Homo sapiens: one gene and its partner. The protein of the gene in region 2 purifies or fractionates together with the protein of the main gene of each other region. This does not show direct contact. Each region holds a gene or a part of one and is shown on either strand. Other genes may lie near its edges.

Region 1 (3,500 bases), on a different chromosome or scaffold from region 2:
CCCTAAATTTTAAATCTACTCTGGCCTTGCGTGACTAGAATGAGATTTCATGCACTAGAACTAATGGCCACATTTTTGTTAAGTTAAAATAAAACAAAGTGACTGTAAGAGTAAGAGAATCTTACCTTGAACGTGGCGAAATCCCATCTCTACTAAGAATACAAAAATCAGCTGGGCGCGGTGGCACATGCCTGTAATCCCAGCTATTGGGGAGGCTGAGGCATGAGGATTGCTTGAACCCAGGAGGCAGAGGTTGCAGTGAGCTGAGATTGCACCACTGCACTCCAGCCTGGGAGACAGAGTGAGCCTGTCTAAAAAAAAAAAAAAAAAAAAAAAAAAAAAAAAAAAAAAAAGAATCTTACCTTGAACATGTCCACCCAGATCAAAAGTTGTAAACGTCATGCCAGCAATGGTCAGTTCTTCGGAAGCTAAATAAGATTTTAAAATATTTTTACATGAAAATTAGAAACCCATTAATCGTGTAAAAAGTAAAGTAGAGGTTCCTTTTCAAAGACTTTCCTCCCCATCTAATTAAGAATAAATAGTAACTTCTCTTAGAAGCAAAATTGATTCAAAGACCCGTGCTAACATTCTTAAATATCTGCCAGCCGTAATAAAGAAATCAATGTACTTTATGTTCTTAGCTCCCACAATTTAGCCTAAATATTTGCCCTGGCATACTTACACTGGTCCAAGCAAGCATTAGGTCATAGCCTGTTCCTCTTCCTTATTTGAAGGTGTTTTTACCTTTCTCAGCATTCCACAAGTTACTTCCTCCTTCCTTTGTTCTCCTCTGCCTTTGCCTCTTTTAAAAAGTTCTAAGTTGCTAGCCAATCAGGACAAATACAGAATGTGAGGTCCCATTCCAGCCAATGGAAACCGGACACAGCAGTAGGGTGGACGCATCAGATTATAAATGACCCTGTCTCCTTTGTTCGGTGTACTCTTGTGGCAAAACTGCTGGCAAGTGTACCCTTTCTGCAGAAAGTAAAAATGGCCTTGCTGAGGAAATTAAATTTATGTTCAAGTGCTATCCTTTACAGCACCAGGGAACAAGCATTTCTAACAATAGCTTATATTTACTACTTAATGTTTGATTTACTTTTATTGCAAATAAGGTCAAATCAAACATTTACAAACTGGTACAATAATACTTTTTTGTAATTAGATATACACCAATTCATACTGACAATATAACAAATAATTGTAATATTCAGTTCTAGTATTCTACTCACCACAAATCCAACATTTATTTTTCCTTCTCTATTCTTCCTGCTGAAAATGTTAATCTCTTCAGACAATTATTTGCTATGAATTCAAATAACTGCTCCAATCTAATAATTGTTCATATAATTCATCTTAAATGATACAGGTGAAATAATTTTCTCTTATGGCTGACATAAGACAGTCTTTAATTACAAAAACAATTACCATAAAAAATTGTGGCCATTATTTCCATAACTATCTTTCTTTCTCCTCCCTTCCACTTCTGGGACTTCAGTTGCAGGTTTGTTAGACTGCCTGATGTTGTCTCACCAGTCATTGAGGCTCTGTTTATTTTGCTTTCAGTCACTTTTCTCTCTGTGCTTCATTCTGGAGTTTCTGTTGCATTGAGTTAAGTTTAGTGGTCTTTCTTTCTGCAGTACTGGCACTATCTAATTTACTATTAATCCTATCCAGTGAAATTTCCATTTCAGGCTGGGCATGGTAGCTCACACCTGTAAGCCCAGACTTTGGGAGGCCAAGGTGGGAGAATCACTTGAGCCCAGGAGTTCGAGACCAGCCTGGGCAACCCAGGGAGACCCTGTCTCTATTAAAAAAAAGAAAGAAAGAAAAAAAAGAAATTTTCATTTCAAATACTGTATTTTTCATTTCTAGAAGTTTCATTTGATTCTGTGTTATATCTTCCATTTCTTTCCTCATGTTTGTGTTTTCCTTTAAATCCCTGAGCACATTCATAACGATTGTCTTATGTCTTAATCTGCTAATTCCATCATCTTTGTCACACTTGTGTCTGTTTCTACTGACTGAATCACTTTCCTGTTTCTTTGCATGTCTAGTAATTTCATATTGAGTGCTGGATTTTGTTGTAGTCTTTTGAAGAAGGTTGAATTTTGTTCTGACAGTTCACTTGCTTACAGATCAGTTTTTAACATTTGTTAGAAGGCTAAATGGGATTAAACAACAATTCCTGGCCCCATGAGAGCTCTAGTAATTATTTGGCTAACAGCATTCTTACAATTGTTCTTTGACTAGCCTTTTGGAGCTTTACCCATTGCATGCACAGATTGGTATTCAGCTATGTAAATTTCTAGAGTCCTTTCTCTCCAGAGGTCCCTCCTCTCCGGTACTCCCTCCTCTCTGTCCTAGCAAAAAAATTCTAGTCCTGTTGGCCTTTCCAAATTCTGGTCTACATCTCCTCAACTCAGCAAGACTATTGGACTATGTTTGGGTGTCCTCTCTTTGCACCATGGTCTGAAAATTACCTCTTGGCATAAAACCAAAATAGAGTTGTTTCCTTTCTCTCAGGAATCACAGTCCTGTGGTAGCTGTTGCCCAATGTCTGAAAACAGTTGTAGCATCTTTTTTTGTCCGGTTTTCTAGTTGTGTACAGTGGGAGGGTAATTCCAGAACCAGTACTCACTTATGGCCAAAAGCACAAGTGCCCCATAATGACAACATAAGTTTTAGTGTAGCTACTTTAGCCCAGAGTTTTTATCTTCTTAAGAAATTCTGGGGGCCGGGCGCGGTGGCTCACGCCTGTAATCCCAGCACTTTGGGAGGCCGAGATGGGCAGATCACGAGGTCAGGAGATCGAGACCATCCTGGCTAACGAGGTGAAACCCCGTCTCTACTAAAAATACAAAAAATTAGCTGGGTGCAGCGGCAGGTGCCTGAAATCCCAGCTACCAGGGAGGCTGAGGCAGGAGAATCGCTTGAACCCTGGCGGCAGAGGTTGCAATGAGCCGAGATTGCCCCACTGCACTCCAGCCTGGGGAACAGAGCGAGACTCCATCTCAAAAAAAAAAAAAAAAAATTACCCAGGCATGGTGGCAGGTGCCTGTAATCCCAGCTACTCAGGAGGCTGAGGCAGGAGAATCACTTGAACCCAGGAGGCGGAGGTTGCAGTGAGCCGAGATTGCGCCATTGCACTCCAGCCTGGGCAACAGAGAGAGATTCTGTCTGAAAATAAGAAGAAATTCTGGGCCGGGGGCGGTGGCTCACGCCTGTAATCCCAGCACTTTGGGAGGCTGAGGCGGGTGGGTCACGAGGTCAGGAGATCGAGACCATCCTGGCTAACACGGTGAAACCCCGTCTCTACTAAAAAAATACAAAAAATTAGCTGGGCGTGGTGGCAGGCGCCTGTAGTCCCAGCTACTCAGGAGGCTGAGGCAGGAGAATGGCATGAACGCGGGAGGCGGAGCTTGCAGTGAGCCGAGATTGCACCACTGCACTCTAGCCTGGGCGACAGAGCAAGACTCCGTCTCAAAAAATAACAA
Region 2 (3,500 bases):
AAAAAAAAAAAAAAAACCCCACAAAAACCAAAAACGTGACGACTGAGACGAGACGCGCGCTCTAACAGACGAAGAGGCAGATGAGGCCGCGGAGGAGCAGACGCTGGAAGGAAGCAACAGCCAGCCAAAGGGAGCAGGAGGGGCTGCGAAGCGATGGGGGGCACTGGGAGGGAGCCGGAGGGAATGGGAGGGACTAGGGACTAGGAGGGGCTGGTGTTGGGGCAGGGGTGAGGCCTGGGGCAGGGGGATACCCATGGCTGCTGAGCCCCTCTGAGAGGAGTGAGGAGAGCAGTTGGCTGCTGGTGCTGACCTCACCCTGGCACCCCATCCTCGGCTGTGCTTGGGGTGGGAGCCGCTGGGAAGGGAGGGGCCGCTGGGAAGGGAGGGGCCGCCGGGAAGGTTGTCCTCCCTGAAGTGGGGGCTGCCCTGACCTCACACAAAACTCTAGGCATCCAGAGGAGGGTGGAGCCAAGACCCCTGTGCCTTTCTGGGGTTTCCAGGATGAGACGCCAGGGACTCAAGACACATTGGCCACCTGATAGCTGGGGCAGGTGACGCGGGGTCCTCACCAGATGTCCAGGATGAGAAGCGTGGCCACGATGGCGTAGACTCCGTCGCTGAAGGCTTCCACGCGCTCCTTGCTGAGTGGCTCGTGGAGGTCAAACGAGAAGACTTCCACTGGGTGAGCCGAGGGCTCCCTGTGGCCTGGGGACACGCCAGGAGGGTGGAGCTGGCCAAACCCCCCATGTGGAGGTAGAGCCCGCGTGGCTGTCACCGCCCTCATCCATGAAGAGGCCTGGAATGTGCAGGCCAGGAGAGGAGACAGGACAGGGACGCCCGAGGGGCGGAGTGGGGGAGCCCCAGCCACCACCACGCACACGGGCCTCGGCCCACGGACAGCCCTCAGTGCGGAGCAGCCGCACGGAGGTGGGCGGACTACAGGCCTCTCAGGCCAGCCCACCCAGTCATCACCTACCCAGGAGCCTGTCTCTGCACCAGCCGGTGACCTTGCTGACATAGGGGAGGAGGATGACAGTCACCATCAGCAGGTAAGACTGCAGGGAGACAAACCGCAGGTCAGTGCCCTCCACAGGGGTCCGAGGCCAGGCCTTACCCACACAAAGCTGTGTGCCAAAGCAGGGGCTGCGGCAGAAGGGAGGGTCTTTGCAGATCATGTATCTGATGGGGCCTAGTACCCAAAAAGTGTAAAGGATTCTTAAGCCAGCACAGTGGCTCATGCCTGTAATCCCAGCACTTTGTGGGGCTGAGGCAGGTGGATCGCTTGGGCCCAAGAGTTCGAGACCAGCCTGGGCAACATAGTAAGACTGTATCTCTACGAAAAATAAAAAATTAGTCAGGTGTGACTGTGTGTGCCTGTTGAACCTGGGAGACAGGAGTTGCAGTGAGAGGTGACCCAGCTCACTGCACTCCAGCCTGGGTGACAGAGCAAGACCGTGTCTTAAAATTTATCGTCTATCTCCCTATCTGAAATTCTTACAACTCAAAAATAAAAGGACGACCCAATTAAAAATGGGCAAAGGATGAGAACAGACATTGCTCCAAACAAAACATGCAAATGGTCGACCTCTCGCAGATCAAAACCACAACGAGATTCTTCATATCCACTAGGATGGAGAGAACTGAAAAACAGCAGGTGTTGATGAGGATGTGGACAAACTGGAACCACCATGTGCTGCTGGTGGGAATGTAAAATGCTGCAGCTGCTGTGGAAGTTTGGTGGTTCCTCAAAAAATTAAACTTAAAAAATTAAACAGAATCACCAAATGACCCAGAAACTCACTGTGGGCACACACACCAACAGCCTGAGAAGACAGATCTGAAGAGACACGTGTCCAGCAATGCTCAGAGAGGCATCACTCCAGCAATGCCCACAGTGGCTCCACACGCAACAATGCTCACACCGGCGCCACTCACGGCAGCTACACGTCTCCAGCAGTGCTCACAGCGGCGCCACTCACGACACCTACACGTCTCCAGCAGTGCTTTTGTTGCCTTCTCCCTCTCCCTAGTGGCTCACATTCTCCAAGCACCAACAGCTGATGTCCCCATGAGCAGATACTGGTCTTATCCCCAGGGGCTCCTCCTCCAAACACTGTTTGATGTTTACTGTCCTGACACAGTTTTGTATAGATTCCTTATCCAAAAGAAAATAGGCTGGACGCAGTGGCTCATGCCTGCAATCCCAGCACTTTGGGAGGCTGAGGTGGGTGGATCACAAGGTCAGGAGTTCGAGACCAGCCTGGCCAACATGGTGAAACCCCGTGTCTACTAAAAATACAAAACTTAGCTGAGGGTGGTGGCAGGCACCTGTAATCCCGGCTACTCAGGAGGCTGAGGCAGGAGAATTGCTTGAACCTGGGAGGCAGAGGTTGCAATGAGCCGAGATTGCGCCAGTGCACTCCAGCCTGGCAGCAAAACTCCGTCTCAAGAAAAAAAAAAGAAAAAAAGAAAATAAAGGCTGGCGTGGTGGCTCACACTGTAATCCAGCACTTTGGGAGGCTAAGGCGGGAGGATCACTTTAGTCCAGGCATTCCAGACTAACCTGGGCAATATAGCAAGACTCTGTCTCCACAAAAAATACCAAAACTACCCAGGTGTGGTGGTGCACACCTGTAGTCCCAGCTACTTGGGAGGCTGAGGTGAGAGAATCACTTGAGCCCGGGAGGTCGAGGCTGTGGTGAGCCAAGATCACACCACTGCCCTCCGGCCTGGGTGACACAGCGAGATCTTGCCTCAATGAACAAAAAACAAAACAAGAAAACGCATGCACCCCCGGATTCCGGGTGTCGCTGTTTCTGGTCATCGTCATCGTGAAGCTTCTCTGAGAAGGACACTCAGCTGCCCCTTCCTTCGATGAGCGTCCGTCTCTGTCCTCGACAGGCTGGGTCTCGGGGCCTCAGGTGGAGCAGGCCTCCCTCCCTGGTGCCACTCACTGCAGCCCTGGGCCTCACACACAAGACCCTGGGTGGAACCCCTGCCTGTCTGCGCTCTGCCCCCACCCCCGTGTTTGTTGCTCAGCGGGGACATTGCTCCTATGGTGGCCCCCGTTCCTGCCTGGGCCCCACGGGCTGTCCCAGCACTCACCAAGGGGACAAAGAAGAGAGAGAAGATGGCCGCTGCAAAGCACAGGGCCGGGCCTTGGAGGACGATGCCCAGGACGTGTCGTCGGTACAGAGCCCTGTGGGCAGAGCGCTGGATCTGCGGGCTCAGCAGGTGCGGGAAGTGGAATGCGTACCCCACAATCAGTGCCTGCGGGAAAAGCAAGCTGTAGGACACAGGCCCCAAGAGCAGAGGGGGCCCCCACAGCAGTCAACCCCCGGGCTGCATGGCACACGCACGCAAGGGTCTCGAGGTGGGGAGGACCTGGCCCCGGGCTGCATGGCACGCGCGCACAGGGGTCTTGGGGTGGGGGAGGACCTGGCGAGTAGAGGTGGGCTTGTACCTGGGACACTTTGGGCACAGGGGCTGAGGTGGAGAGA

The links. Proteins that work in one complex are often made in the same cells at the same time.
Region 1: the proteins of TMEM175 (region 2) and SAR1B purify together in Homo sapiens (affinity purification with mass spectrometry; one large-scale study listed by BioGRID and IntAct). This does not show direct contact.

The regions. Positions count from the first base shown.
Region 1 is NC_000005.10:134,612,329-134,615,828, forward strand, and holds part of SAR1B (small COPII coat GTPase SAR1B), read right to left. Parts: intron 705-3,500; exon of another isoform or gene 686-704; intron 429-685; coding exon 363-428; intron 1-362. UniProt on the Homo sapiens protein: Small GTPase that cycles between an active GTP-bound and an inactive GDP-bound state and mainly functions in vesicle-mediated endoplasmic reticulum (ER) to Golgi transport.
Region 2 is NC_000004.12:952,960-956,459, reverse strand, and holds part of TMEM175 (endosomal/lysosomal proton channel TMEM175), read right to left. Parts: intron 3,271-3,500; coding exon 3,106-3,270; intron 1,056-3,105; coding exon 977-1,055; intron 706-976; coding exon 570-705; intron 144-569; coding exon of another isoform or gene 62-143; exon of another isoform or gene 1-61. UniProt on the Homo sapiens protein: Proton-activated proton channel that catalyzes proton efflux from endosomes and lysosomes to maintain a steady-state pH.